Linked DNA regions of Homo sapiens: region 1 is linked to region 2. A link means that fine-mapping ties the variant in region 2 to the expression of a gene that starts in the linked region. Tissue or cell type: fibroblasts. Region 2 holds a variant in brackets; the other region holds the start of a gene. All regions are shown on one strand. Distances are from middle to middle. Region 1 holds the start of C4orf33 (chromosome 4 open reading frame 33). Region 2 has its middle 290 kb from the start of LINC02479.

The links.
Region 1: C4orf33 starts here. The variant in region 2 is fine-mapped to the expression of C4orf33 in fibroblasts (GTEx, PIP 0.96).

What each region holds. Positions count from the first base shown.
Region 1 is chr4:129,083,583-129,100,233 of GRCh38, forward strand. C4orf33 (chromosome 4 open reading frame 33) reads left to right here and starts at 12,570. Exons shown (of 6, transcript NM_001099783.2): 1 at 12,570-12,627. SCLT1 (sodium channel and clathrin linker 1) reads right to left here and starts at 9,957. Exons shown (of 21, transcript NM_144643.4): 1 at 9,488-9,957. The coding sequence starts at 9,521. RefSeq lists an enhancer at 9,652-10,221.
Region 2 is chr4:130,081,555-130,098,205 of GRCh38, forward strand. No RefSeq gene overlaps it. Among named protein-coding and RNA genes, the nearest start is that of LINC02479, 290 kb to the right of the region's middle. The variant A/G (reference allele first, on the strand shown) is at 8,249.

The DNA.
Region 1 (16,651 bases), 1.0 Mb before region 2:
GGAGTTTGAGGCTACTTTGAGGCTACAGTGAGCTATGATTGCACTACGCTCCAGCCTGGGCAACAGAGCAAGACTCTATCTCAGAAAAAAAAAAGAAGAAAGATCTCAGGAGGAATTACAAAATAAATTTTAAAGTATTTTGAAGTGAACAATAGTGAAAATGTGATACCTCCAAACTTGCTTAAAGAGAAATCTGTAGCTTTAATTGCATATACTAGAGAAAAAGTCTGAAGTTACAAATGCATTCCAAGAAGTTAGAAAAACAGCACCAAATTAAATCCAAAGAAAGCCAAGTGGAGTAAATAAAGATAAGCCCAGAAAATAAAGAAATTGAAAATAAACTCACAAAAAATGATAAGAAATATGATCATCTCAAAAGTTATTTTAAAAAAGCACCTGATGAAATTCAAGATATATTCATGATAAAGCCTTATCAAAGTAAGACTAGAAGGGAACACTGTTATTATAATGAATGCTTACGTAAAATACACAACAAACATCATACTCATGAGTAAAAATGTTGAAAACTTTCCCTTGAATTAGGAATCACATAAGGATAAATTCTTATGACATTTACTCAACACTCTATTGGAGGTCTAAGTTAATGCAGTAAAGCAAGTAAAAGACCTAAAAGACACAAAGGCTGGAAAAGATGAAACAACTGTCATTATTCATAGTTATGAGTGCATATGTGATTAATCCAAAAAAACCACAGATACATACTTAAAAATCAATCATGAAGATTAACAAAGTTGTTGGATACAAGGTCAATATATAAAAATTAATTATATTTCTAGATACTGGCAGCATAAAGTTAGAAAACAGTAAAAGATGCTATTTATAGTACCATAAAAAAAAATAAATGCCCAGTAATAAATACAACAGAAGATGTTTAAGACCTCTACACAGAAAACTATGAAACGTTTCTCTGGAAAAAACTTTAAAATTCATATGAAACCAAAAAAGAGACTGAATAGCCAAAGCAATCCTAAGCAAAAAGAACACACCTGGAGGCATCATGTTTCCTAACTTAGAACTACACTACAGGGCCACAGTAACCAAAACAGCATGGTACTGGTGCAAAAAACAGACACATAGGCCAATGGAACATAATAGTGAACCCAGAATTAAGGCCACATACCTACAACTATCTGATCTTCAACAAACCTGACAAAAACAAGCAATGAGGAAAGAATTCCCTACTTTAAATGGTGCTCGGATAACCGGCAAGCCATATGAAAAAAGACTGAAACTGGACTCCTTGCTTACACAATATATAAATAATAACTCAAGACGAATTAAAGACTTAAATGTAAAACCCCAAACTATAAAAACCCCGGAAGACAACCTAAGCAACACCATCTGGACACAGGAGTAGGCAAAGGTTTCATGACAAAAATGCCAAAAGCAATTGCAACAAAAGCAAAAATTACAAATGGAAACTAATTAAAATAAGGAGCTTTGGCACAGCAAAGGAAACTATCCACAGAGTGAACAGACATGCTGCAAAGTGGGAGAAAATTTCTGCAAACTGTGTATCTGACAAAGGTCTAATAGTCAGCATCTATAAGGAACTTGAACAAATTTACAAGAAAAAAATCCCATTAAAAAGTGGGCAAAGCTCATGAACAGACACCTTTTAAAAGAAGACATATATGCGGTCAGCAAGCATACAAAAAAAAGCTCAACATCACTGATCATTAGAGAAATGTAAATCAAAACCACAGTGAGATACTACCTCACACCAGTTAGAATGGCTATTATTAAAAAGTCAAAAAATAACAGATGCTGGTGAAGTTGTGGAGAAAAAGGAACATTTATACATTTTGGTGGGAATGTAAATTAGTTCAACCATTGTGGAAGACAGTGTGGCGATTCCTCAAACACCTAAAGACAGAAATACCATTCGACCCTTTAATCCCATTACTGAGTATACACCCAAAGGAATATAAATCATTCTACCACAAAGACACATGAGCATGTATGTCCATTGCAACACTATCCACAAGAGTAAAGACATGAAATCAACCTTAATGCCTATCAATGGTGGTCTGGCTAAAGAAAATGTGGTACATGTATACCATGGAATACTATGCAGCCATAAAGAAGAACGAGATCATCTCCTTTGCAGGAACATGGATGGAGCTGGAGACCATTATCCTTAGCAAACTAATGCAGGAACAGAAAACCAAGTACGGCATGTTCTCAATTATAAGTGGGAGGTAAATGATGAGAACACATGGAGGGGACCAACACACACGGTGGCCTATTGGAGGGTGAAGGGTGGGAGGAGGGAGAGGATCAGGACAAGCAACTAATGGGTATTAGGCTTAATACCTGGGTGACAAAATAATCTGCACAACAAATGCCCATGACACAAGTTTACCTATATAACAAACCTGCACATGTACCCCTGAACTTAAAAGATAAATTTTAAAAAAAGAAAAACTTAAAACAAAAAATTAATCACAATACAAACCTCTTTTTTTTTCCCTGACAGAGTTTTCAATTAAGAAAAAAACTAGATCTGTGTCCTCAGTAATTAAAATAGGATAAGAAGTAAATTATGTATTAATAATGAGGGAAACACTTTCAATCTTCATAGATTGACTATAATCTGGAGAAAATTTTACTGTAACTTAAATGTTATTATTTCCTTCATTCTACAAGTACTTATCTGGCTTGTTTAATTTGCGTTTCCTGGATACCTGAAGATGCTGGTGTATGTATGTATATATATATATATATATATATACACACACACATTCATTGTTAGTTTCAATTTACTAATATTTTATTTTGGATTTTAGTTCCAACATGCATAAGTGAAACAGGTTTACAGTTTTCCTTTCTTGCAAGTATGCTTTTTGTGTAGCAGTTAAGAAAAGAGACACTGAAACTAGACTGCCTGGGTTCAAATCCCAGCTCAGTCACTTACTAGCTCTGTTAACCTTGACTTTGTGAAGGCACTTATCCAGAGGGTTCAGCTATCTATAGGTACTAAACAGCATTTGGTATGAGAACTGTAAAGGCAAACCAACCAATCATGGCATGAGGTGTTACTGGGCATCAGCTATAGAAAAGCAGGGGTATAATCATATTAAGATTACTGACAAGCGCAGAAGGACTAATGGGCAATGGTTACAGCCTGTAAAAGACACCAGTAAAAACAAACTGGGAAGCAGTCAAGGTGGTAAAGAAAATGAAGGGCTCAAAGGATGAGGAGGTCAAAGAACAGTTATAGTAGGAGTAAGATACTTGAGTTTAAGACATCAAAAAGTAGGGCAACTTGAATAGGACTTCTGCTTATACTCAAGAAGAAATAACATGGACCACTTTTCTGCCTGACACACATGAAAAAGCAAGCAAAAAAATCATCAATACCTTATAGTACACTAGACATCAGACAATGATAATCAGAGACAAGAAACAAATGAGGTAAGCCCTATGATTGCCCCACCTTAATGACTTAAGAGACTTTCCAGGGCCATGACACGGGGGGAGGAAATGCAAGTGGAGACCACTGGACTCTTATTAAGAGGTGGAGCTGAGAAGTAGTGGAGATTAAGTGAACTAGAATTGGCAGGACAAAGGATAGAAGACTGCACAGAGAAAGAACCCTAGGGAATGTGAGACCTGCAGAGGTTCTTCTCGAGTACAATACAGAGTACTGAATAGCTCTTTATTTATTAAAGAAATTAAGTTTGTATTTTAAAACCTTTCCACAAAGAAAACTTCAGGTCCAGTTGGCTTCACTGGTGAATTCTATCAAATATTCAAGGAAGAAATAATATCATTTTATACATACTCTTACAGAAAGTTGAAGAGTACAAAATATTTTCCAAGTAATTCTATGAGGCTGGCATTACCTGATACTAAAACCAGACAAAAATATTGGGAAGGAAAAAAAAAAAGGCACTTTAAGAGGCTGAGGTGGGAGGATTGCCTAAAGCCAGGAGTTCAAGACCAGCCTGGGTGACAAAGGGAGACCCGGCTTCTACAAAAAATAAAAAATAAAAATATTAGCCAGGTGCAGTGGCACATGCCTGTAGTCCTAGCTACTCAAGAGGGTGAGGCAGGTGGAGGGCTTCAGCCTAGGAGTTCAAGGTTGTAGTGAGCTACTAGTGTACCATTAACTCCAGCCTGGGTGACAGTGAGACCCTTGCGCAAGTTAAAAAAAAAAAAAAAAAAAGGAAGAAAAAAAAAGAAAAGCAAAAAACCTTCATAGGTTGGGCATGATAGCTCATGCCTATAATCCTAGCACTTTGGGAGGCAAGAGGATCACTTGAGCCCAGGAGTTCAAGACCAGCCTGGGAAACATAGGGAGACCCTATCTCTACAAAAAGAAAAAAAAATTAGCCAGATATGGTGGCATGTGCCTGTAGTCCCAGCTTCTCAGGAGGCTGAGGCAGAAGGATCGCTTGAGCCCAGGAGGTTGAGGCTGCAAAGAGCCGTGATTGTGCCACTGCACTCCAGCCTGGGCAATAGAGGAAGATCCCGTCCCAAAAAGAAAAAAAAAAAGCTGAACACACTAAAATTTTAAACAAACATTTATAAAATAAAATTCAACAATATAGAAAAAGGATTATACATCATGAGCAAGTGGAATTTATCCCAGAAAGGCAAGGTGGTTTTAACATTTGAAATTAATCAATGTAATTTACTCTATTAACAAACAAAAAATGAAAAAATATCTTTTAATCTCAATGGATGCAGAACAGCATTTTTAAAAATCCAGCATCCATTTTGATAAAAACTCTCAGCAAATTAAGAATAGAAAGGAACATTCTCAACATAAGAACGTCTATGAAAAACCTACAACTAGTATCATACCTAATTCTGAAAGACAAATGCCTTCCCCATAAGATCAGGAACAGGATATGGATGTGTATTCCCACCACTTCTGTTCAATACTGTACCAGAGATTCTAGCCACTGCAATAAGGTGAGAAAAAGAAATGAAAGGCATCCAAATTGAAAAGAAATAAAACTTTTTATTTTCAGATTACAAGATTATCTACATAAAACTACTGACAGACTCTACAAAACTACTAGAGCTAATGAATGAGTTTGGCAAGGCTGCAGAGCAGAATATTAAAGAACGTTATTTCTCACCACACATCTACAGCCATCTGATCTTTGACAAACCTGACACAAACAAGCAATGGGGAAAAGATTCCCTATTTAATAAATGGTGCTGGGAAAACTGGCTAGCCATATGCAGAAAACTGAAACTGGACCCTTTCCTTACACCTCATACAAAAATCAACTCAAGATGGATTAAACACTTAAATGTAAGACCTAAAACTATAAAAACCCTAGAAGAAAACCTAGGCAATACCATTCAGGACACAGGCATGGGCAAAGACTTAATGTCTAAAACACCAAAAGCAATGGCAAAAAAAGCCAAAACTGACAAATAGGGTCTAATTAAACTGAAGAGCTTCTACACAGCAAAAGAAACCATCATCAGAATGAACAGACAACCTACAGAATGGAAGAAAATTTTTGCAATTTATCCATCTGACAAAGGTCAGATCCTACCCACAATCTACAAAGAACTTAAGCAAATTTACAAGAGAAAAGCAAACGATCCCATCAAAAAGTGGGCAAAGGATATAAACAAACACTTCTCAAAAGAATATATTTATGCAGCCAACAAACACATGAAAAAATGCTCATCATCACTGGTTATTAGAGAAATGCAAATCAAAACCACAATGAGATACCATCTCACACCAGTTAGAATGGCAATCATCAAAAAGTCAGGAAACAACAGATGCTGGAGAGGATGTGGAGAAATAGGAATGCTTTTGCTTTTACACCGTTGGTGGGAGTGTAAATTAGTTCAACCATTGTGGAAGACAGTGTGGCGATTCCTCAAGGATCTAGAACCAGAAATACCATTTGACCCAGCAATCCCATTACTGGGTATATACCCAAATAATCAGAAATCATTCTACCATAAAGACACATGCACATGTATGTTTAATGCGGCACTATTCACAACAGCAAAGACTTGGAACAAACCCAAATGTCCATCAATGATAGACTGGATAAAGGAAATGTGGCACATATACACCATGGACTATTATGCAGCCATAGAAAAATATAAGTTCATGTCCTTTGCTGGGACATGGATGAAGCTGGAAACCATCATTCTCAGCAAACTATCACAAGAACAGAACACCAAACACCGCATATTCTCACTCATAAGTGGGAGCTGAACAAGGAGAACACGTGGACACAGGGAGGGGAACACCACACACCGGGGCCTGTTGGGGAGTGGGGGACTAAGGGAGGGATAGCATTAGGAGAAATACCTAATGCAGGTGACGGGTTGATGGGTGCAGCAAACCACCATGGCATGAGTATACCTATGTAACAAAACTGCACGTTCTGCACATGTACCCCAGAACTTAAAGTATAATAATAAAAAAGAAATGTTATTTCTACATACTAGCAACGAAAAATCAGAAACTGAAAGTAAAAGAATAATACCATTTACAGTAGTATCAAAAATTTCAATACATAGGCATAAATCTAACAAAAGATGTGCAAAACCTAAATATTAAAAACTACAAAGTATAGCTGAGAAAATTTAAAAAGATACATCAATGATGTACAGAAGAACCAATTTTATTTTAAAACTTACTATAAAGCTGCAATAATTAAGACAGTGGGGTACTGGTGTCCAGACAGACAAATAAATCAGTGGAAAAGAATAGAGTTCATTAATAGATCCATACATATATAAACAACTGCAAAGGAGCAAAGGTAATTCAATGGAGAAAGGGTAGTTTTTCCATTTGGGCATCCAATGCAAGAAAGTGGCCTGGATCCTTACCTCATCCCTTGTATAAAATTTAACTGTATGAACCATAGATCTAAATGTAAAACCTAAAACTATAAAACTCCTAGAAGAAAATATAGAAGAAATCTTTGCAGCCTTGGGTTAGGCAATGATTTCTTTTATGACACCAAAAACACAATTCATAAAAGAACAAATTGATGAATTAAATTTCATCAAAATTAAAAATGTTTGGCTCCAACACTATTAAGAGAATGAAAAGAAAAAATAAGTCCATCACCACTCTGCCAGTGAGTCTCACACCCCACTAATGAATGAATTCTTAGTTCCTTAGATTGATAATGCAAGTACCTCTTTGAACAGGTTCCTAAAAACTAACTGATCTTTCCCAGACAAAGGTGGAAGAACGGTGCACAGCAAATATGCTACAAGCTTACTCTACTAGTAGCCTGGTTGAGTGTGGAGCTGCCTGTCGTTATGATATGTAAAGCTGAAATAGTAATTATCAGAGGAAATGTCATGTGGGGACATGAGAGTTGAGAAGTACCAAACATGAGTTGAGAAGTACCAAAACATGAGTTGAGAAGTACCAAAACAAATGGTCTTGACCTGGGCTCCCAAATCCAAACGGAACAAAGAGACAATCAAGATCAACAGAAATCAGTGTAGAAAAAGTCAGAGGCAGGTGGAAAGAAGGCAAGTGATCTATCTTTATCTGGGCTGGTATTTAGGTGGGTCACTTAATGGAATAACCCACCACCTTCAAATGGCATGCAAAATCCGGTTAAAGAAAAAAGGAGAGCGACACAGACACTCAACTCTCATTCTTATCTCTTCATGCAAACGCTACCATTCTATGCTCCGATTTCCTGAATAAAATCAGTTATTTTAAGCCTTTGAACCATTCCTTCTTCTGCTCCTTCTGCTTGAGATTTCCTTCTTGCACTCCACTTGTCTTCCATGGAACTATTAAATACCACTCATTTTTAAAAAAATGTTACTATGCTTCAGTTGTCTTATTTGTTTTCCCCTGGTATTTGGATCTCAGTTTTATCTAAGAATTCTGGCTGGATCATTCTTATAAAATTAATAGTTTCTGACCACCTCAAGTACTATCCTGACTCTAGCCAAACTCCTCATCAACCAATTCCTGTCCCACACTACTCTTACGGTGGCCAGTTAGCTGTTCTTATGGGGTGGGGATATTCCCACTGCAAACCTAAGAAATAATGCTAATGTTATTGTGTCATTATAGTGTCATTAATTATTTTAGATAACATATACCATGCACTTAATATGTGCCAGACACTATGCTCAATGCTTTTTCATCATCTCATTTAAGTCTCACAACTTCAAGAGGATTCTTGTGTTCTTATACTCATTATATAAATGAGAAAACTGAGGTGCAGAAAAGCTAGGAAACTTGCTCGAGGTCACAGACCTGGAAAGAGGTAGGCTGTGAGCCCAGACAGACTAAATCCAGAGGCTGACTGAGTTCTTAACCACTGGTCTATAATGCTACCAAAACGGAACTTACTACCTTTTTCCTAACTTCCCCGTTGCTCAAGCAAAAACTAAGTTGCTCTCTACCTCTTTCTCTCAAATCCCCTGATCTCCAGTCTCCCTGTGCCCAACTTAGTTTACTTCTTACCTGAATGATGACAGTAGACAACTAACTGCACTCTGCTATAATGCATATTCCCCGTAAAAATCAGACCGGGCCTTCTAAACTACAATTTGATCATGCCACTCTCAACTGAATTCCTATAACCCATGCAATGGTCCATACTCCTTAGCACAGAGAAGACAGGGCCCTTCACCATCCAGCCCCTTTCTACGCCTTCAACTGCACTTGCCATTTCCCTATATAAATATTCCAATTCAATTTACATCAATATTACACTCAAACCAGCCGTATTGCAAGTCTTTAACAAAGCATATTCCTAATCCCCTCAGTGTCACAAATATTGTTCTATTTGGGATGCCTAGAGTTTTTCATATAGTAAATTCATATTTGTACTGCACGTTTCAGCCCAATAGCACCTTCCTTGAACATATTTTAATAATAATCGTGTAATAGTTAATATTTGTTTAACACAATGTATCAGATACTATTCTAAATCCTTTACATATTTTAATATTCATTTAATCTTTCCAACAACCCTATGAGACTGTGGCAAAAGAGCCAGCAGTTGCTGTCACTTCAATATATTTTGGAATACATTTCCCTCCCCAAATTAAATTCTTGGAGGTAAAAACTGTCCTGTTTATCTTTGCAGCAGCTGTTCTTCCATAGTGTCTGGTACATAATAGAAACAGGAGTTCAATAAACATCTTTTTAATAAATGGCCAGAGAGCTGTGCCCCTAGATTTTAAATGCACACTTGGAAACTCCTGCTGGCCATTAGCCTTCTAATCTTCAGAGCACGAGAGGAGCATAACAAACATGTTTAGCGTCTAGTAGAATTCTGTGTAAGCTACAAGTACTACCACACGGTTCTGCTTAAATATACACACATCCTCACGTATAACATCAAGGTTTTTTTTTTCCTGCAACTAACTTCTTTAACTCTTTACCAATTTAAATGTACCCAACCAGCATTCAAAAAAGATTTGTCGGTCAACGACGACGATATTAAACATTGTATATGAAGTCTCAAAAAAACATGGAGCTTACTTTGCTCTCTCAGAAAGTCGATTTCTGCAGCCATTTCGATACAATTTTAGTTTAGAGCTTTCACCACCTTTACCTTCCTCTGAAAGACAGAGAGCTTGCTGTGCGGGAAAACAAAACTAAGCCAACGCTCGGTTGGTTGTCAAGCGCTCCAGCGGTGCAATCTGCATCCTACTCACGCGGCATCTACAGCCCCGCCACGCTTCTTTCCCCCGCGCCCCAGACGAGTCCCTGGCCCTGGTGAGAGACTGAAGATTGCTGGGGACTCCACGTTCAACCGAATCCCACGCTGGTGGGAAGAGGACGCGGTCGATACAGGCGTCCCGCGGGTCACTCTGGGTCTCGTCGGGCCACCTAGGAGAGTGCCGCGGGAGCTTGACGGCAGCCTGAGAGCGGCGTTCTACGCGGAGCGGCGGGGGTTGGAGAGGACAACGCCAAGACGGCTGGGAAGCCCCAGGCCAGCAGCGGAAGTCCACTCGGCCCGCCCTGCGACTTTGAAACCGGTGCCCCGGACCACTCCTTGGAGACGGTGGCGCCTCTTGCGTCATCACGCGGGCGTTGGAGCTTACGCCATCGCGCGTCCTAGAGTCCTAGCACGCTATTGGCTGGCTGTCAAGCAATGGGAGGAGTCGTGAGAACCTGGATGACAGCGGGCTGAGCCACCGGCTTGGCGCGGCGGCCAAACTGGTGGGACAGTGTCTCCAGGTAGTGAGGCCCAACCTCTTTAAAACAAACAAACAAACAAACAAAAAACCAAAATGCAAACGTGAGTAGAGAATGAAATACACAGTTTAAATGCCCTCACTATCTTTGGGTTACTAATATACTAAGCCTTTCTGGACTAAGTAAAAGATGCAGGTTCCTGCGGCTAGGGATAGAAGCCAGACTGGCGTCTTCAGAATCTCCCACCAAGGCTGTACCTCTGGAGGAGTTCTAGGTTTGGATTTGGTCATCTCAAGAAGGTAAGTACCTTCTCGGTCTTTGTGGGTCTTTAGACAAAGGAGACAACTGTTGTTTAAATATTTAACTGTGTAGTAATAAAGCGTGTAGTTAGAAGTACTCAAAAGATCTTGCAAATTCAGCAGCTACTTCTTCAAAGATAAGCTTGTTTCCTCAAATATAAGGAAAGATAAAAGGTACTTTTTTTTGCAAAAAACAAAACGGTAAAACTTACATTTGTGGATAGATTACAATTTTCATTTTTGAAAATTAATTTTGTCTGGACTTAAAACGTATTTTTTTAAAAAAAATCATTTAACATTAGAGGAAATCTCACCACTAGCAACAAAAATGTTAACTTGAAGCTAGCCACTAGTTTTGTGCTTTTAATAAATTGTATTTTTATGGACTGAAGTAAAGTTTCACTAAACAGGCATGTCATAGATGCAGCTTGATTTGGCTTTCTGTTTAACGGCTTAAGAGTTTTGTTGTCCCGTACTCATAATGTCATATAAACAAAGTAACCTTAGCGATATGTGTTAAGAAATTTTAAAAATGTATTCAAATATATGCAGTTAGGCATCTGAAGGCCTTACTCAATACTCACTGTTAATAGAATGAGATGGTCCCTTCCTCTAAAGACTAGCTGTTAAATATGGATGTGTAGCTTAATAATCATTGAAAAGGTCTAATCCAGCTTTGAGTTGGTGATAATTGAACTTGTTCTGATTTTTAGTAGCTATAACGTTTACACAAAAACTTTTTGTATAAACGTTATAGCTAAGGGAAAATTGAGTGTGCAAGGTCCAACTCGTTTTTGAAGTTCAGTATATGACTCTTTCTTCATAAACATCTCACTGACTCTCCAAGGACTTGCTTGTAACTTCTCCCACATTTGAACCTTGTATATTGTCGTATTTCTACTTGGCATCAAATAAATAATTATAGACTTAACTCTACGCTTACACCCAAACTGGATGGAAGCAAATACCTTCTGGCTATAACTGATGAGTGGTATTTACATAAAGTGAATATCTCAGGTGAAAACTTTTATGTCTGCACTCGAATTTTTTAGCTTACATGATCATAATTATGATCATGATAGTTTTTTGTTTTTGCGTTTGTGTTTGTGGTTACAAGATTTTAGTAGTTGAATTTTAATGGAGTATTTTCAACATAAGTTTCATCATTAGGAAACAAAATTGTGATGATTTCACTTATCCTTAAAGGATCCCCTCTCATGTTCCTCCTTTTCACATCTCCTGAGTTCTTTATCCACTTCTCCCAAGGTAGGTGCCACCTTAGTACTTACTTCATGCTCCTTCCTGCATTATCTGTCATGTTTTGTAGTTTGTCTCCAGGCTCCATCATAATACCTGGAACACAGAGTTGATTAAATATCTGATGGAAGGAATGAAAGAATTCAGTGGATGTTCATGAAAAGTATCTATTAGTATAAATTGAATACAAGGAATGACAAGCAGAAATGTATGTAGTTTGTGTGTAACTCTTGTCAAGCCACCATTTAATGTTTTTATATGACTTTTCTGCAATAAAGAAAACCCCTAAAGTTGTATAGATTGAAAATTAGTGACATTTCACTAACATTCATTTGGTTGATCAATTGACATTGAGCACCCAGTACTATGTGCAAAGTACCAGGAAGAATACAAAGTTAGAAGTTTAAGCAAGGATCAGAACAGATCACACAGCTGGCAAGTGCCTGAGTTGAGATTTGAACCCAGGCAGTATGGTTCTAATTTCACAATTGTTAACTGCTATGAACATGCCTCCCCAGGAATATAGTATAATATAGTTTATAGCTGGTATAATATAATTTATAGTTTTTGCTTATATGGCCAGTTAGCCTTTAGTTGTATTAAATGAAATATTTCTGTACATGTTATATTGTAATCTTAATGATTTACAGTTGATTTTCAAATTATTGCACAGTATTTATATTTCTGAATCACCCTTCCTTCTTCTAGGAAACCACTCATACTTTAGTGGAACGATTAGAAGTCTTCAGTTGTTCATGTGTGGCCCTTCAACATCTTTCTTTCCTAGAAAAATCAAGCGTCTTAGCTTCAGTGTTCTAAGCCCCTCCCCCAGAACGTGTAGGCAGCTGGGTGGAGCCTAAAGCCGAGCCCTCTCCTGTGACCTCGGCTGAAAAGAAGAAGCCAGTGTTTGAGAAAAGCTTCGTGGTCTGTGTTCTCTAGTTGTTCCCTCTTCTCTCTGACATTCCTTTCGTCGTCGCCAGGTCTTGTTTTTCGCTTGATCTCTGGAAAATACTGAAAAGTATTTTACTTTTCAGCTGTCTCCTGCTAAGTGAGCGTACTCCCCCTTTCAGGCTGACTTCCTCATTTCTCCGTTTCCCTGATAAATGGGCGGGGCCTCGGGGAGGTATGGAAACTGAAAAGAAATCATTATTGTAGAAAAACTAAAGAAATTTTTGTTGAGCAGAGGAATTTGGAAATTTTCCTTGCAGATCATTTGGTTGAGAAAACACCTTTACCATAACTTATTTCTTTTAAACTTTGCGGACATTTTTTCTTTTCCTGGGTTCTTAATGCTCCAGTGTTCGGTCTCCTTTCTCTTCCTTCGTTTCCTTTTAGAGGTCTTTCCAGGTAAAGATAAAGCAATCAGAACAATTGAAAATTTATTTTTTTAACTTGTTTTAAGAGCAATTTGAAGAATAGAGGTTAAAAGTAGAAACATACAGAGTAACAATAAATATTGTATTAAGAAAGTCTAAACAGCCAAACTTAAAATTGCATTGCAGGACAGTAATCATCTTGATAATATGCATTATGACTTTTCGGAAACGTTCAGCATATATAATATAAAGGGGAGAAGAGGCAGCCACCATACTCTTTTTAAGAGAACCGGCCTTAAATTAGACTTAAAATATATATATTTTTTTGAGACGGAGTCTTGCTCTGTTGCCAGGCTGGAGTGCAGTGGAGCGATCTCTGCTCACTGCAACCTCCGCCTCCGGGTTCAAGCGATTCTTCTGCCTCAACCTCCCGAGTAGCTGGAACTACAGGCGCGTGCCACCACGCCCAGCTAATTTTTGTATTTTTAGTAGAGACGGGGTTTCACCATGTTCGCCAGGATGGTCTCGATCTCCTGACCTTGTGATCCGCCTGCCTTGGCCTCCCAAAGTGCTGGGATTACAGGTGTGAGCCACCGCGCCCGGCCAAAAAATAATTTTAAACTGTTCAGTTACCTTAAAATAGTAATGCATGTCTGTCATAGTGTAAAATGCAGATAGGTTTTTAAAAAGTGATGAAGTTGAAAGGAAGCCTTCCTCCTTCCCATATCTGCAGGCAGATAATTCCCTTCAGGGAAGCAACCACTGTTACCACTCGTTTCTTGGATGTTTCCTGAGATAGTGTATGCCTCACAAGCATATATGCAAATAAGCTTCCTTTTTATTAAATAAATGCACCTTGCTTTTTTTCACTTCACAACATATTTTAGCATAGATGTTAATTCAGAGCTGCCTCATTCATTTTAGCAGTTATACAGTGTTTCATTGTATGGTATAGCATAATTTTTTTTACCAGTCCTCTACTGATGGGTATTTAAGTTGCTTCCAACATTTTGTTATTATGAACAATGCTACCACAAATATCCTCAACGCTTATGTCATTTTGAATATGTGCAGGTATAGTAACTCCTAGAACTAGACTTATTTTTGTCAAAGGATAGTTGCATTTTTATTTTGATAGATATTGACGTATTGCTCTTCACAGAGGCTATATCAATTATGCCTCACTAGCAATAAATGATTTTTTTCTCAATGCCTTCATTAACACAGCTTGTTGTCAGACTTTCTGATCCTTGCCAATCTAAGTGAAAAATGGTAATTTATTGTGGTTTTAGTTTGCATTTCTGTCATTATAAGTGAACATTTTGCATTTTCTCTCCGTGAACTGGCTGTTCATAATTTTTGGTCACTTTTCTGTTGGAGTGTTGGTCTTTTCCTTATTGATTTCTAGGAGCTCTTTGTGCATTAAAGAAATTAGTTATTTGTATCAAGTATGAATTGCATATACTTTTCCCCAGACTTTTGATTTTGTTAATGATAGGCTTTTGGAGTAAAGGGAACTTGGGAAGGAGGTTTTTGCTTTTTTACTATTATTTATCTATTATTAAAAAAATTCAACTTTTATTTTAGATCCAGGGTATATATGTGCGGGTTTGTCACATGGTTATATTGCATGATGCTGAGATTTGAGGTACGAATGATCCTATCACCTGGGTAGTGAGCATAGTACCCAGTAGTTAGTTTTTCAACCCTTGCCCCTTTCTTCCCTCCCCCCTCTAGTAGTCCCCAGTGTCTGTTGTTGCCATCTTTATGTCCATGAGTACCTACTGTTTAATTTCCACTTATAAGTGAAAATATGTGGTATTTGGTTTTCTGTACTTTCATGAATTTGCTTAGAATAATAGCCTCCAGCTGCATCCATGTTAGTTTTGCTATATTTATGTAGTAAAATGTTTGGGTTTTGGTTTGTATTTTAAAAGGTTTTCTCTACTAATGCAGGGAAAGCCCAGATTTGGGGCTCAGCCCAGGAGAGTTCTTGGCTTCATGCAGGAAAGGATTCACAAGCTAAAGCAAGTTTATCAGAGCAACAAACTACAGGAAAATGGCTGCTCCATAGACAGAGTAGGAGCAGCAGCTCCCATGAATTGTTGGCCAGCTGTATACATACAATTCCCTGGTTATATGCTAAATAAGGGGTGGGTTATTCATGCATTTTCCAGAAAAGTAGGAAGGGTTCCCAGAACTGAGAGTTCCTCCCTTTTTTAAACCATATAAGGTAACTTCTAGGAGTTGCCATGGCATTTGTAAACTGTCATGCCACTGTTGGGAGTTTTTTTTTGCATGCTACTGCATTATAATTAATGTATAATGAGCAGTGAGGGCAACTAGAGATCACTTTTGTTGCCATCTTGGTTTTAGCTGGTTGTGGCCAGTTTCTTTGCTGCATCTTGTTTTGATAAGATTCTGTTTCAATCAGTGGGACCTTGGTGCTCAGAAAACAAGCCCAGCTCATCTCCTACCTTACTACTATAAGATTTTATTTAACTCTCTTTTTATTTCCTGTTTTTATATGATTTTGATTTTTATGTTTAAATCTTTGATTCATCTAAAACTTACTTTGGTATAAGGATCCCACTGAATTAAATTGGACTGCAAAATGAACCAACTGATGTTGGAAACGGGTACCTCATTGATTAGTTACATGAGAACCATCCCAAACTCCTGTAGACTTATTATATATTATTTCCCCAGCACCTGGTATGGTACCTGAAATAAGATGAGTGCTTAATAAATGCTTGATAAACTAAATTGAAGGGAATTTCTGGGCTTATTATCTTTGTTATTAGCCATTGTATTGATCTGATATGTAGTGTTAAATGAGATGATGATACCACGAACACAGTAGATTTCTCCTGCACAAAATCTAGAGTGTTAGATCCAGGGACTAGAAAAATTATTCACTCAACAAATAAATAGTAACCATCACTTATAGGCATTCTAGCTGGGTTCAGGGAGTCAATAAACAAATATGTAATGCCATGTAATTGCCATGTAAGAATAGAAATAGAGCAGTGTATAGGTTAATAGAGAATGACCAGGAGGGGAGCGCTAGCCCAAGAGGTGAAGGACATTGACAATTAAGTTGTCTTTACTTAATGAACACATGTTCAAATACAAAGAAATTGAAAGGTTGTGGGGGTTAAATCTCAGAAGATTACAGAGGGAGAATCATCTGTCTCTAGTTTATGTTAGTTTTAAACTAGACTGTTAACTACTGGGCAGGACGGACTATACTTTTTAGGTTAATTTTTATAAATATTATGCATTCTTAGATTGACGTCAGTGTTCTTTAAGCGATATAAAGTTTAAAAAAAAAAACAAATTTGTCATTGCAATAAGAAACGAAAGTTGTTTATGCAATTAAAGCCAAAATTATATTCTGTCTTTGGACTGATCAGCCATGCACTATTCCCTACTTGTGGAAGTCTAGTCACTATTTTTTGCAGTAATTTTCAAATAATGCTCAAAGAAACCTTAGGGGGGAAAAGCAGAAGGAACCAGTAGAAAGGTTTGAGGTACTCACTACCTAATTCTTAACAATGGTAACTTTGCTTTTATCTTTTACTTCTTATCTTCCAGATAAAATTACATTTTGAAGTAATTTGAAACCTATG
Region 2 (16,651 bases):
TTTAGTTATAGAATCTAAATATAGTCTTACTAATTCAATGTTTTTCTTTTATGGATACTCACAATGATATCCTGATGATTAAGCTGAATATTTTTAAGGTATTTATTTTTGGCTGAGAACTAAGAAGAGTTTATAAGAACTTTTTTAGCTGAGTAAGTAACCATGTTATGTGTTTTTAGTAATGTTTAATTGAATATTGAACACTGTTTTGAAAAAAGGCATGGCTTCATATTCCCCAATAGTAAACTAATATTTTTATTAATAAAGCATCTGATATGTCACATTATTATCTCTGGGTTGTTGGCTCAAGTAAAGATTAGCCCCACCTTGTATATCAATTCAAGGAAATAAATTCTATATGCTATTTTATTTAAAAAGGTTAAATGAAATGTCATTCGGTTATTAGAAAATTTCAGTACTTGGTTGATTGTGAATGCTTCAATATAGTAAATAACACTGAACTTTAAGAATGGCAGCATTTGTGGAATAAAAGTTAAAATTTTGTAAGGGCTCTGAAAAGTTAAGTGATAATGTGATGTTCATGAATATAAGTGATGGTAGCAGTGAGATAACTGTTTTTAGTTAATTTCTTTTTTCTATTACTTTTTCAAAACTCATGATTGGAATATTTTATATATTATTATACTTACATTTGTTTTATGATTATACATACTTTTATATAATTATTTTAAATAATTTGCATTAATATGTTAATTCTTAGATTATATTAGAAGTATTAATAAGAACATTTTAAATATACATATAAATGTGGAGAAAGTTAATTTGAGTGATAAATAATAATAATAATGTGTAACACAGTGTGTTAATAAGAGACTAATCAACTTAGTCTCTAATTCTCATGTCTAACTTGTACTGTATCAAAGAATGGCTTTAGGACTGTCACATTGTAACTTTCAAAAAGAATATGGCCTACAGCAATTTTAATGAAAATTCATTAATTATGACAGTTTCCCATGCTAATATGTATTCTTACTTATTCTTTCTAATGGTCTTATTATAGCTACATGTGAAGTCACTCTTATCCACCCAACCTTACACATATGAAAACAGAAGCAAAGACATGACAAAACAAATGCAAAGACACTATAATATTCTATTTCTCTGCATCCCTGGAGAATCATCTAATATTTTTATGGAATGAACTAAATATACAATTTTATTTCTGTTCTACTTTTCTTTTTTAACGAACAATAGCAATTTTAAAAGGATTTTATTTAATCACATTTTTTTCATTTGTTGCAAATATAATAATCAAATTTCCCCATAACAATATATATTACAATCAGAGTCATGATCAGCATGGAACGCTTATTATTGTCAAACATTCAAATGCTTGGACACTTCTTGCAGTAGTAAATAATAGTGTATAAACTGCTAAATTCTAAAAAAGACACAAGATCAAGTTTAAAAAGTGGGCCTAATTAATTGGTATTTATTTATTCATCAGTTTAAAAATACTTTATTTCTCTGGAATCATTTGTTCTGTAGATGCATTTGTAAGTTGTTTGTTTTGTAGATGCATATATAAAAGTTATGTTATATAATCATAGATTCTACAAGACATAAGAGATCCTAGAGGTCATCTAATAAGAATCCTCTTATCAAAGATAGTTACAATCCAAGACTTCACTGTTTGTTGACCAGAGAGTTTGTTGAGAAAGTCATCCTAGATATTTTTATTTTTGTCTAGAACTCTTTTCTGCTATGAAATTACACTTTCAATATGATGAACTTCTTTAACATTCTCTCATTATTATACATGCTGCTTTATGGCAGCTGAGCAATCTTTTGGCATATTTACACACAAAATCATGCAACAATCACAGCCCTATCAGTCAAAGCTCATTGGTTTCCTGTTCCCTAGTAGAGACACAGAGATTTATTCCCCCAAGTTCTCTTTAATTTTTTGCCATGTTGTGGGCCTGTGAGCCCCTTCACAACGTAATGTGCAGTTGAAAGTCCATTTCTCTGCTCTGTTTAGTGCTCCAATCAGAGGCAGATTTCTGGACATCTGTTTCCCACTTAGTATATATTTTCTGTATTGTGTCTAATATGTATGGTTCTATAATTGAAAAATTACTCTCTGTAGCCCAGGTGGTGTTGTACAGAATAATTTCTTCAGTATTGATTTAAGCAGTTGATGGTTGCATTGGAGAAGGAAAGTCATTCAATTGTACCAAAGAGCTTTCAGTAAAAAACAATTTGTTAAGCCTGTACTAAATGGCATCTTCAAAAGATATCTTCAGTAATAATCTTAAATTTAACTCTAAGATTTTCTCTGCATTATAGCATTGTGTTTTCTTTTATAGTGAAGACATTTTTAAAGAAAACAACAACAAAAAGATTTTGCCATGGGTGATTGCTAAGCATTAAATTCACTAATTTTTTTTTCTACAAACAAATTGCTCAGCTGGCATGTGATTGGGGGATATAATAGTAGTCAGCTTTCTTAGAAAAACAGCACAGCAGTCTGCTCTTCAGTTTCTATTTTGGGGAAAGTGTAGAATACTCATTTGCTATAGTTTTCTTATTTTAAAAAAACCCTTTATATTCTGGAATTCTGCTTCAGTTTTCTAATTTGAAACTATTCACACCAAATGGTTTCATGCTATTGTTTCAGCCATTTCTGTGGTTTCTATGTTAACCAAAAAGCTGGAATTTGTATATTTGCCAAATTTGCATCACTATTTACACATGGCAAAAAGTTCATTGCCTCCTGTTGGTTATTACCTTGACTGACATTACATGAGTGGTCTCTTCTCCCCACACCCAGGTCCCCACTTCTCCATGGTCTTTAACTTCTCCTGGTTTTTCTTTTCTCCATTGCACTTGTCATATTTTAACCTAGTTTTATTAAATCTTTATGATTATTGTTTATTATCTGTCTTTCTTACTGAAATGTAAGCTATATGAACAATGAATTCTTGTATATTTAATTCAGTCATATATCCCAAGTGTCTAAACAGTGTCTGGCACTTCATAAGTATTGTTGAACGAATGAATCTGTTTTTTTTTTTTTAATTTTTTTGTTCTGAAGATCCATTGGCATAAATCTGTTTTATTCAAGTAATTGTGAGTAATAATGGTATTCTTCAAAAAAATAATTTATTAAGCAACACATATGTGGATATCTTTACACTATTTCCAAGGAAGAAATTATAGTTCAAAGATATCCTGACTCTAAATAGTTTACTTAGATTAATATAAAACAAAAAGAAGTTTCAAAAAGAAGGCTCCAAAGTCAAGGGAGTTTCCAAATTCTGCTGAGAAGAACACTGGGAAAAGTTTTATGGTGGGGGTACCTAAGTGCAGTCTTGAGCTGAAAACCATATTGTCAAACGTTTTCAGTTGATCTCTTTCATCATCATTAGTTTCTACATGAGGTTTAGTAATCCATCCTGAGTGCTTTGTTCTCATCTTGACGGATAATCTTTTCCCAATCTACTTTGCATGATGAGTATACAATGGCTGTTATGGTTTTGAAATATTCTTTGTTTACATTTACATTTGTTAAAGTAGACATGAGATTTCATATCTACTTATGTCCTTACATGTTTAAATATTGTGATGCCTACTAATATGAATCCTATTTATCACTATTCAAAGCCTTCAACTTCTTGAACATGTGATAATATTTGTTTAAAAGGGCTGTATCTATATCTAATTTATATCTTTGTCTATCTACATTTTTATGTATAGATCAATTTAAATATAGCAGGCATATTTATATAAATATATAAAACACATATAGTATATTTACATAAATATAAATGCCATAAATTTATAAAACAGAGAAAGAAAAATAGGAAAGGAGAAAGGGAGACATCAAAAGCCTACAATCTTGTCCTTTAAAAAGTACCCATTTCTGGAGTTCAGAAAGCAATTACCATGAAGAACAGTGTGCCAGGCCAGCAAATTCTGTGCAGCGTGTGGTGAGGTAGATGGAAACATCTAGAGAACTCTTTTTACCTAGGTTCAAAACAAGCCAGGGCTTAGAACCAAAGCAGACTGAATGGTTCAATTTTTGTTGGCTTCTCAGCTCACAAACTAAAATAAACACGAATCCTATCGCTCTAGCAGGAAAGAAAGATAATAAAAATCTACAGATAAAAGTTAAACAAAAGATCAAGAGAATCCTATGGCTAGAGAGCAGCTCCATGGCTAGTGCCTTTCTTCTGAGCATTCTCACGAGGCATCTCCTGAGCAGAAGTGCAGTCTAGCTGTTCATCTGAGTGTCCCAGCCGCATGGGACAGAGCATGGTCAGAGGAGGGGGGCGGGGGGGAAGTGACAAAGACAGAGAGGTGAATGTGCTTTCATGAAGTGGCTGTAGTCTAAGACCCTGGTTATGTCTTCAGACCTTAGAGAATATGAAGTTCCAATAATAACCATCATTCCATAGGCTCTGAATCCTAATCTGAATCCTTGAACTTGACAGATAAAGAGCAGTCTTCCTCCATGAAGGTAAAATGAAGGAGGCAACGGAACAAGGTGGTGAAACTGTCCCGTTTTACTGGGGCCTGATGTTGACAAAATAATTGAAAAAATATTACTATATAATAGAGTCCCAAATTATACAATAAAAATACTGGTGAGAGGATGGATGTTACATCTTCAAAGGGAAAAGCCTCAAAGGAAATAGAGAATGAAATTTAAACACCATAATCTTTTGTTTAGTTCTTAGGCAAAGAAATTTACACTGTAAATAAAAACAAATATATTCTATATCTTTCTCATGTTACAGAAATTTTATAATAGGAAACAGCATATCTTTCAACATCAACAGAGTATATGCTTTAGTTAGGCTGAAGAAAACAATTACTTCACAAATGAGTCTGCTAAACTGCAAACTTCCAAAAAGCATTTGGCTTTGTACAGAGAAAAATTATGGGTTTTGAAATGAGGTAGGAGGAAAGTGAGCACTGGAGGACCCCCTCTTAGGCCCCCTTGCTTTGTCTTTTATGCTCTGTGACCTGCTCCTTCTTTCTGAATAGGGTTTTCTTGTTACTGGAATGTCAAGCTCTTAAGTTAGATTTTGATCCTAGAGAAAATCTGTAGACAACACATTATGAAACGTCTTCAAATAACTGTGGCTTTAACCCATATATGCTAATACAAATTAACAACCAGAAACAAATGATTTATTATCTTTGATCTAATGTTTTTAGGCCTCAAACTTCTTTTTTTCAAACATTTGAGCAGGTTTTATCAACTATTTTGCACATTTGAAAACAATACTTCAGTAGATTTTGTCTGCATATATTTTATACACATATCTTTAATGTTTTATTCATTGTTGCTAAATATTATACTGGATCCATTTCTGATAAATTGTTGAGATTAAAATATGTAATTTGTTTCCATAGCAAGGTAGACTAATAATGTTTCATTCACTTGAATAAGTATACATACCTCTTTAAATACATAATTTTATGATCAGAAATTGTACCATGGGTATTGGAATAATTTTTTAGTAATATATAACTAATACACTGAGATATAAATTTTTTTATCTTGCCTATAAGGTATATTATATAACAGAATATTTCATTATAGTTTATATAAAATTAGTTTCTAGAACTCAGAATTTATTGGAAGATAAACGTAGGAGATTTTGTGATGTGTAAATATGCCAATTATATGCCTAACGTGGTTTTTTTTTTTTTTTTTTGAGACAGGGTCTTGCTCTGTCACCGAGGCTGGAGGGGCAGTGGTGCAATCTCAGCTCACTGCAGCCTCTGCCTCCTGAGCTCAAGCAATCGTCTTACCTCAGCTTCCCAGGTAGCTGGGACTACAGGAACGTGCCACCACACCCAGCTAATTTTTCTATTTTTTGTAGAGATTGGGTTTTGTCATGGTGTCCAGGCTTGTCTCGAACTCCTGAACTCATGCGATCCACCTGCTTTGGCTTCCCAAAGTGCTGGAATTACAGGCACATATGTGATTTTTATGCATGGTTTGTTCATATTCTAATGTAGTTCGAATTATTTTAGAATGCATTATATGTGACAATTGAGTTTTGCATATTATTTAAAAGAGTTCCATTCTATCTATACTCAGCAAAGGTTGTTCAATAGTTGATAATATTTGAGGAAACAACTATTAAAAACCTCATATTTTATAAACAGTCTTTATTTCAAAATTTGTATGATATGGCTTAAATAAGAATTAGCATGGATTGATGGCCAGCTTTCAAATAAAACTGAAGATCAATTCATTTTAAGGTAATACCACTTCCTCTATTTAAGGTTGTTTTGTTTAGTTCCAAGATAATTCACTCCAATTCTGAATACTAATTTGAAGGTTTGAATGCATTGTCGTGACATATGATGAATTCAAAAGTGTGTTTGCTGCTTTGCTGAAACATAAGAAACAGCATATATAGCAATTATATTTAAAATGCACAGCTTATGTTGGACTCTGTGACAACCAAGTGACAATGATAGATCCAAATGCAATCCCGACTTAGAACGTCAATTAGGAAAATGGCAAAGGCCTTTCTAACATTATAAATTACTCTGTGGATGCCAGTAACAAAAGCTCTCACTACCAGTAATTTTGCATGATTATGGTTTGGACAAAAGATAGTTGATGAGGGTAAAACCTTGTATTTATACAGCTAAAAATTATTTCTCACTAGATATATAACTGTGAGCATGATCTCAACAGCTTCTATGACTCTAAAATACACCTATGCCAAACAGATTTCAGATTTAAGTCACATTTTGCTATGTCTTTAAATGACAGCAATAGTATTTTTTGAGATATTAATATTCCAGTTGCTAACACTCACATAGCAGGGCATTTCTATGAAAAGACATCTATGTATGTCTTGATTATTAGTTGCATCAGTTACTGACTATGACAAGTGATCCATTTTCTGTTTATTGCAAGATTACTTGTCTGTTTGGAATGTCTTAGAATATATTGTCAGTACTATACTCTGTTAGCTTCAGACTTTCAGGAAAGACTTTTTGGAATGTCTTAGAATGTAGTGTCAGTACTACACTCTGTTAGCTTTAGACTTTCAGGAAAGAATGCACAGCTTACATTTTACTTTTTGTGACAAACAAGTGGCAGTCCCTTATGACCGAATTTGTAAAGTACTTTATGTTACCTTTAAAATATGGTTCATTTCTGGATTTCTTATTACTTATAGTGTGATATATTGTTTGCTGAAATGCGTTAAAATATCAAGCATCCCCCAAATAATTATACTTGTAAATCCTTTGCTATCTGATCTTTCTACCATTGGTTCTTGAGTCTGATGTTTACACATGAAAAAATTTAGGGATTAGTGAGAATTCAATACTTTCATTTTCTCTGGATTCATAAAATTTAAAGTTAAAAAACATCTTAAAGGATAGGAAGTCTAAGCCCTTCATTTTACACCGGAGGAAACAACAACTCAGAAGTGAAGTGATTTCTTTGAGGATGGTAAATTGGAAACTTCAACAATGTCACAAAAAGTCAAGATCCACTAATAGACCAAATGCCTTTTTGGAAGATAGTTAACCTCATAAATAATTGCTTTTCCATCCCCTCTGAATATTTAGTACTTTGAGTCAACATCCATTCAGAAAAATAAAAACTACTATATTATAGATATTTCAAACAGAATAAAGTTTAACTCAGGGAATTGATTGTAAATGTGTTGGAAGGTCGTGAAAGGGCCACTATCGATGGGGGATATTGACAAATACAAAAAAAAAAAAAAAAAAAAAAAAAAACCCTCGCTTTTTTCTTTCTTCCTTTCTTCCTCCAGTTGCTCCAATTAGGCAACCTTGAAAAAGCCAGATGACAATACCAAGAGATCCATAACAAATTATAAAGGTTGATTGCAAAGCTGACAGTAAAGCCAGAGATGAGATAGTTGAAAGAAGCACTTCTGCTTCCAGCAAAAGTAATGCATGTTCTGTGTTCTCACATATGGATGTGACAATGCCAAACAAATAATATGACTTTGGATAAGGGGACTTTCTTCATTCAAGAGCAACTATCAGGAGGAGGGGCTTAGCTCTGGGCTTTCAACCATTACCATTATCAGTATCTGGGGGGATGAATGCTTTTGTCCTGAAGAAAAGGGATTTGGGTATGCATCACAGTGTCCAGTACTATGGTAGACCCTTCTATAAGCTGATTAAAAATTGGATTTTTAATCATATTGTTCCAGCTTTCGGTGAGCAAATGTTTTTAACCTCTTGCAAAATGGAACACATTCTCACTGAG[A/G]TGATGCTAATGAAAATACTCACATGTAGCTGTGCCCCTCTCCAGACTTAGTGCTTCCTGTCCCTCTTCCTTTGCTCCTTATTTTATGAATGTGGGTCTAAGTCATTGTTCAGTGGCCCCTATGGAAGTGTTACTTACTTCATCTCACTTATTTAAATATTGAGTAAATTTCTTTCTTTTCCTTCTGTGCACCTTCTTCACCCCACCCTAGCCAGGTGGGAGATTTTCTCTTCACTATCAGTGAAGGCTTCAAGATTTTCTTTGACGCCTTATGAATAAATAACTCTTGATGGCCAGAGTCAGCAACATTAGAATGTGCAAGTCGCTTAGGTGAGCTGGAGGAATGCATAACCTGGTTTTTTTCCATAGTTCCTCCAAATGAAGAATAAGGGTTTTCCCTATGTTCCTGACACCAAAAGAGAGATTCAATATTGTCAGCAGATGGCATTGCATCCAGGGTCTTTGGGAGGGAAACGGTTCGTTCATCTATTCCATCCCCTCAACTCCTAACTCTTGTGACCAGGATTACTCAAACTATAGCACCTTTACTGCTGGTTATTTCCTCACTGAGCAATAAATACAAAAATCACCTTAACAATGAAACATAACATTGATAGGTGACAACGTGCTAGCAGCCCTCTCTCGCTCTCGTGCCTCCTAGGCCTCGCTGTCCGCTCTGGCAGTGCTCGAGGAGCCTTTCAGCCCACCTCTGCGCTGTGAGGGCCCCTCTCTGGGGCTGGCCGAGGCCGGAGCCGGCTCCCTCTGCTCACGGGGAGATGTGGCGCGGGGCGGGAGTTGGGGCTGCGTGTGCCGTGGGCGAGCAGGGGTTCCGGGTGGGCACAGGCTCGTCGGGAGGAGGGCACTGAGCACAGCCAGCTGGCGCCTGCTGGGCTTGGTCAGGAGACAAGCTCCCTGTGGGCTGCTGGAGGGCTAGGTGCCGCAAAGTCCTACAGTGAGTGCCATTGAGAGGTGAAGCCAGCTAGGCCCCTGGGTCAGGTGGGGACTTGGAGAACTTTCCAGTCTAGCTAAAGGTTTGTAAATGCACCAATCAGCGCTCTGTCAAAATGGACCAATCAACTCTCTGTAAAACGGACTAATCAGCTCTCTGTAAAATGGACCAATCGGCTCTCTGTACAATGGACCAATCAGCAGGATGTGGGTGGGGCCAGATAAGGGAATAAAAGCAGGCCACCAGCGCCAATAGCAGCAACCTCCTGGCTCCCTTTGCGTGGTGTGGAAGCTTTGTTCTTTTCACTGTTCGCAATAAATATTGCTGCTGGTCACTGGGTCTGCACCATCTTTATGAACTGTAGCACTCACCGCGGAGGTCTGCAGCTTCACTCCTGAGGCAAGTGAGACTGTGAACCCACTGGAAGGAACGAACAAATCCAGACCCGCCGACTTTAAGAGCTGTAACACCCTGAAGGTCTGCAGCTGAACTCCTGAAGTCAGCGAGACCACAAACCCACCAGAAGGAAGAAACTCCAGACACATCTGAACATCTGAAGGAACAAACTCCAGACACACCATCTTTAAGAACTGTAATACTGACCGCGAGGGTCCGCGGCTTCATTCTTGAAGTTAGCGAGACCAAGAACCCACCAATTCCGGACACAACACACCCATCTCATTGTTGGTATATGTATTTTTCTTAATCTCTTAGATATGACTGAGACTTTTTTTTTTTTTTTTCTTTGAGACAGAGTTTTGCTCTTATTGTCCAGGCTGGAGTGTAATGGCACAGTTTCGGATCACTGCAGCCTCTGCCTCCCAAGTTCAAGCAATTCTCCTGACTCAGCCGCCCAAGTAGCTGGAATTAACAGGCATGCACCACCACATTCGGCTAATTTTGTGTTTTTAGTAGAGACAGGGTTTCACCATGTAGGCCAGTCTGGTCTCAAACTCCTGACCACAGGTGATCCACCCACCTCAGCCTCCCAAAGTGGTGGGATTACAGGTGTGAGCCACTGTATCTGCCCTATGACTGAGACCTTTTATGGCCTTGTGTGTGAGGTGTAGCTTCCAGACATCATTGGGGACAAAGTTATTCACACTAAAATCAAAGTAGTCTTTGTGTTTGAAGGACCCCAAGCTTCCTAGCTTTCTCGCTGGAAGTGGAGAAGCTGCTGCACTGAGTTGATGGGATCTATTTGTCAGGAGCACAACCTCAGCAGCTCTCTTACATGAAATGATGTATCCAGTTGAAAACTTTCTGCTCAGTTTTGTTGTCTGAGAGCAGCCAATGCTGCCCTATGCTTTTGAGCCTCCAAAATAGCTCTATTAATACTAAGAATCTGAGGGGTCACTACTGTCTGTGACAGCATGGGCTGTTCTTCTAGATTTCTTCAGAAAGAGTTTTTATGCATCAATGTCAGCCTTGTGCTGCCTGCTCTGATTTCCCATACTCTGCCGTACTTTACCTTGTCGTATTGCTCCCTGTTTGTTTTTTTAAATCTCACAACTTAACATGCATGTGCAAGTCCTCTCTCTCTGATGCTGATATCTAGTAAGAAACTTGACATATAAGTCACTGGTAACGTCCTCATTACTGAAAAGCCATTCAAGAGCTGTCAGCAACATTGACAGAGGCATTTGAGAATTTGAGAACATAGGTAATCCTAATGGCTAACCCTGAAAAAAATGTATTAAATGCCATTGCTTCTCTGTCTGCTGCCTGACACCTCTCATACAGTGGCACGTTCTCACCACAACTCAGTTTCTCTCATATCTGGCACATTTCCTTCAATGTAGCGCATAGTTTCTGTCATCAGTTTCAAAATATTCTTAACTAACCATATAATCGTATTTTAGCAGATGAAAAAAACAGATCACAGAATCAACCAAAGCACAGCTGTCTTTTGAATGAATACTGAAAAATCTTAAGAAATTTTGAGTTTTTCAAAGCAGAGTTGAAGGCCAATACCTAGTCTGTGACTTCTTAAGAGTTTTTTGGATACTCCCAAGTTAGCTGACAAATGCTTTGTGAAACATTGTATCATAAACAATGCATTCCTCTGGCTTCCACAGAACTAATATAGGAATTCAGAGTCATTTCCTTGACTTTCTTATGACATTCAGATTATATACAAAGGACCGTTGTTCAATTCAGAACCCTGAATTTGAGAGTTTGGCTGTCACAGTGAAAGATGTGTCCTGGTTAGTGTGATCTAAAGCGAAATGCCACTAAGTGCTGCTCTGTTTTTATAAATAACCAGATATGACCGTCCACCCAAAGGCAGCTTTTATTTTTGTCTCATTCCAACTCTGAAGCACAACACAGATGTTCTTAAATTACTCTAAAATACAAATTTCTGCATAAGCCAATTACTGATCTACATGGTTTTTAACAAAGTATGTCATAGGAAAAAATTAGGTAGTTTGCGTTGTGCAGCTCATAAAATTTTACTCCTAAGTGCACACGAATACACACAAACACACTAAATGAGGCTTCTTTTAAAAACTTATATCAATGGTTTCAAGTCGCATAAACTTTCTTTCTTTCCCTCCACTTTCCATCAATTTTCCAGCCACTATAATCGCTCTTTTTTTATGCAGAGCAATATAGCTTAATCTCAAGTTTACAATATTTTCTATCTACCATTTTTTGGAGCTCAGCCTCCCAGCCTCCAAGGAAACTTATGAAAGTACTGTGAAATACTTATTATTTCTTCATCTGTTATTAAAGGAGACTTATTAAAGTATTCAGCCAACATGTGTAATCTAACTCTGAGAGGTGGAGTGAGCTGGATTATTTTACTGATAATAAGATAAAAATAACGTTTTCTTGTAATATATCAAAAGGAAACAGCAAAAGACATTGTATGAACAGAAAGTTCCTGGCACAGATAAAGTATCCTTTAGCAATAAAATTGTTTTAAAAACAACCTTCAAGAAATTGCAGACTTAAAAGATTAAAAACCTTTAATAGGTATATGTAGTAAGAGCTAAGATTAGAGAAGTCTGGAACAGTTATTTACATGTGAATAAAAAAGAGACAAGAAGAAGCAACAGTAGAAGCAATTCAACACAAAAACTACTCTCATAACCACCTTCAGATCAGCATTTTATAGTTTATTGTGTACAGTTACATCTTTAATAACTGTACAGTAAAATAGACATAGTTCTCATTTCATGGGTAAGGATTTTCAACTTACTCTTATTGTAGTTTTACAGAGACACATATATTTTTATGGACCTGTGCAGAGACTAAATGGATTTCACCTGACTATTGTAGTCATGATGTGGGATCTAAAATAGAAAAGCAGGTCAGCAGCATGCTGTATGAACTGATTCCTGAGCATGGTTTATTTATATGCATGGGTGCACCACCTGTTATACAAACAAAAATGGTAATGCTTTTTACTCTCAGGACTACAGCTCCCCCCAATCATTCTTTCCCCCTCCATCCTATTAGCTTATTTGAAATAATTTGATAAATAATTCAAACATAACTTGTTATCTGGTCTCTATGAGTTCAGCAGTTCTATAAGCAGAAACTTTTAAGAATAAAAAAGCCTACTAGAAATATATATATATATTCGTCAAGATATATATAAAATATATATATGGATATATCAAGAAATAATAACCTGAACAGCCAACAAAAAGCTAGTAACTTTAGAAACTGTAGTAAACAGTATTATTCAATTATAAGCCAATTGGCTACTGAAATAGATTTTATACATTAATTAATATTAAATTTAAGAGATCTGTGATTTTACTGTTTTGACATATCCTAACCCTAATTATCTTTAACTTAAAAATAACACAAGGAAATGAAAACATGGGATGAATTTTCAAAGAAGTGTCAGAAACAAAGAAGAAATGAAGGGAATAGTGACCATGCCCTTGCCTTGGTTTGAGATATTAGGATTGATTTTAAGTGAGTGTGCAATTAGATTGGACAACCAGGAAGGTTTTGCCTAACTCAGTGAAACTAATTTACCTTTTTACAAGCCAGCAATAAATTGTTTTCTTTTTATGATGCTCTCCACCGAAAGTGATTTTTAAAAATATGAGTAGTTTGCAGTTTTACTTTTGCTCTAAATACAAAGGCAGTATAGTACATATGATTCCTTATGATAACCACAATAACTTGAAAATTTGATACCTCGATTTATTTCATGTCTCTTTTCTTCTCAGTTTACATTTCTTCTGAATGCAGCTCTAGTTTGACTGATAAATAACCACGTTGTTTAACACTACTTTTAGGCAGTACTTTATCTCATTGCCTAATTCGTCATTTCTGTCTTTCATTGCAAAACTTGAAAATTTGTTCCTGATGTCACATAACAAAGGCTCATAACAAAAAAATGGAACACACACACACACGTATATGTATATAAACTGCATATTATATAGCCAAACATTTAAGGTAACTAATTTAAGAAACTAGTTACCTTAAAGATTATGTCCATGTATGAGGAATTTGGATCACATCTATGAGAATACATTTTCATATGCTTTTTACTTATATATTAAGGAAACTAGCTATGTTGGTTTGTCCTTGATTGAATCCTGACAGCTTGCAAGCTATGTGTATTCTGCCATCACAGATATTTTTCTAAAACACAAAGGAACCATGTGCTTTGTTTATTTCCCAAATCCCAAGGGATAGAAACCCAAACTTTGCAGTGTATCCACAAAAGAGGGAATCTCTGCTGTTTTCATAACACCGATATCAATTTTCACTTGCCTGGTAATAGCACCTTGATTTTTCTCCTGTTATTTGCACCTTCTGTAATGTAGGCTGTCTTGTTGGGACTCAAGTCCTATGAGATAGAAAAGCAAACTTTATGGGGTAATTCCAAAGGAGGGAATCTGTACTTTTCATTGGGCCAACATTAATCCTCACTTCCATGGTAATGGTGCCTTGATTTTCCTTTCGTGATTATTCCTTCTACAAAGCTTGTAGCTTCCTTGGGCTAGGGAACTAGCTTGGCCGTGTCACTAATACTAGTCAAATCATGCTTTACCTTCTGGGAATTTAAATTTTGAGGAAAATAACAGAAGAATGGAAAATAATTGGAGCTGTGGAATCCACGCTCCTACCCTTTATCTCTGGTGAAATCTTTTCACCTTTTGTAATTTGGTTTTTTTTTAACTGAGAGATGAATGTGCTACTATAGGTTAATTCAGAGGGCTCTATTCACTGAGATTCTCCCTCGTCCATCTCCCCTTAAGCCCCTTTTTGAAATATTTTATTTTAGACTCAGAGGTACATGTGCATGTTTGTTACATGGGTATATTGCATAATGTTGGGGATTGAGGCTTCTAGTGTACCCATTACCCAAATAGTGAACATTATACCTGACAGATAATTTTCTCACAGCCCTTCCACCTTTCCTACTTTTGGAGTTTCCAGTGTCTATTATTTTCATCTTTGTGGCTATGTGTACCTATTTCTTAGTTCCCACTTATAAGTGAGAAGATGTGGTATTTGATTTTTCTGTTTCTGAGTTAGTTACTTGGAATAATGGCCTCCAGCTCCATCCATGTTGCTGCAAAGGACAAGTTTTCGTGTTTTTTTAATGGCTTCATGGTATTCCATGGTGTATATATACCACATTTTCTTTATCCAGTCAACTGTTAATGGACAATTAGGTTGATTCCATGATTTTGCTATTGTAAATAGTGCTGTGATAAACATACAAATGTAGATGTCTTTTTAATATAGCAATAACTTTTACTTTGTGTAGATATCCAGTAGTGGAATTGCTGGGTAAAATGGTAGCTCTGTTTTGAGTTCTTTGAGAAATCTCCATGCTGTTTTCCACAGAGGTTGTAGTAATTTATATTCCCATCAATGATGTCAAAATGTTCTCTTTTCCCCATATCAACACCAACATCTGTCATTAAAATGACCACACTTCCCAAAGCAATATACACATTCAGTGCAATATCTATCAAACTGCTCATGTCATTTTTCACAAAAGTAGAAAAAACAATCTTAAAATGCACATAAAACTAAAAAAAAGAGCCTGAATAGCCAAAGGCATTTTAAGCAAAAGGTAAAAAATTGGGAGACATAACATTGCCTGAGTTCGAATTTTACTACAAGGCTGTAGTAACTAAATCAGCATGGTACTGGTATAAAAATAGACACACTGATCAGTAGAATTGAATGAGGAACCCAGAAATAAAGCCACATACCTACAACCAACTGATCTTTGACATAGCAAAAATGAACAACAGGAAAGGAAACCCTAGTCAATAAATGATGCTGGGAAAGTTGTCTTGCCGTATTGCAGAAGAATAGAACTGGACCTCTACCTCTCACCATATACAAAATTTAGCTCAAGATGGAATAAAAACTTAAACAGAAGAGCCAAAACTATAAAAATCCTAGAAGAAAATGTGGGATAAACTCTTTGGCACATGAATGTAAATTAAAACCACAATGAGATATAATCTTATGCCAGTCAGAATGGCTGCTACTAAAAAGTCAAAAAACCTCTTTTGTAATTTTTTTTTATCTCCAGTTAAATCCTTTCACCTTTCAAAATTCTTTCTGGGGATTAGGTCCTCAGGTTTTACTTTGATTCTAAGAGATATAGGGAATGATTCCAATTAGTTTTGTTGTTGTTTTTCCTTCAGTAAGAGTCAGTTGCTGTTGATGGTAATCAAAGTCCCCTTATTAATCCAAGGTTCATGATGGAAACTTTGCTTATGTCTCCTGCTCTATTCCTGACCACTTATAGTAAACTCTGGAGGTTCTTACTCATCCTATGTATTTTTATTTGCTAATCATTTTGCTTGAGATGTCTTTCCTGGCTTCCTTTCTCTTTATGTGTCTGGCTACTTCTTATCTTTTTCTGTCAGGGTTATTTCCCTTGGAACTCCTTACCCATAACCTTTACCTCATCCTCATGTTAGAAGAGATGGCTCTCCCCAGCCAGGCAGAGTGGCTCACGCCTGCAATCCCAGCACTTTGGGAGGCTGAGGTGGGTGGATCACAATGTCAGGACTTCAAGACCAGCCTGGCCAACATGGTGAAACCCCAACTCTACTAAAAATACAAAAATTGGCTGGTCATGATGTGGGCATCTGTCATCCCAGCTACTCAGGAGGCTGAGGCAGGAGAATCACTTGAACCCGGGAGGGAGAGATTTCAGTGAGCTGAGATCGCACCATTGCATTCCAGCCTGCGCAAATAGCAAGACTCCATCTGGAAAAAAAAAAAAAATAGATGGCTCTTCCCTATTCCAATTGCAAGCAATTTGTGTATGCCTTAGTCATAGAAATGATACAATAAATAATTGCTTACTTCCTTATTAGTCTGTTCCCACTAGAAATAACTTGTTTCATGGAAAGTTCTGTGCCTAAATCTTTGTGCCTCAGGGCCTACCATATAATCTGCTTGTGGCAAATATAATGAAACGTGTAATGAATAATTAATGTATA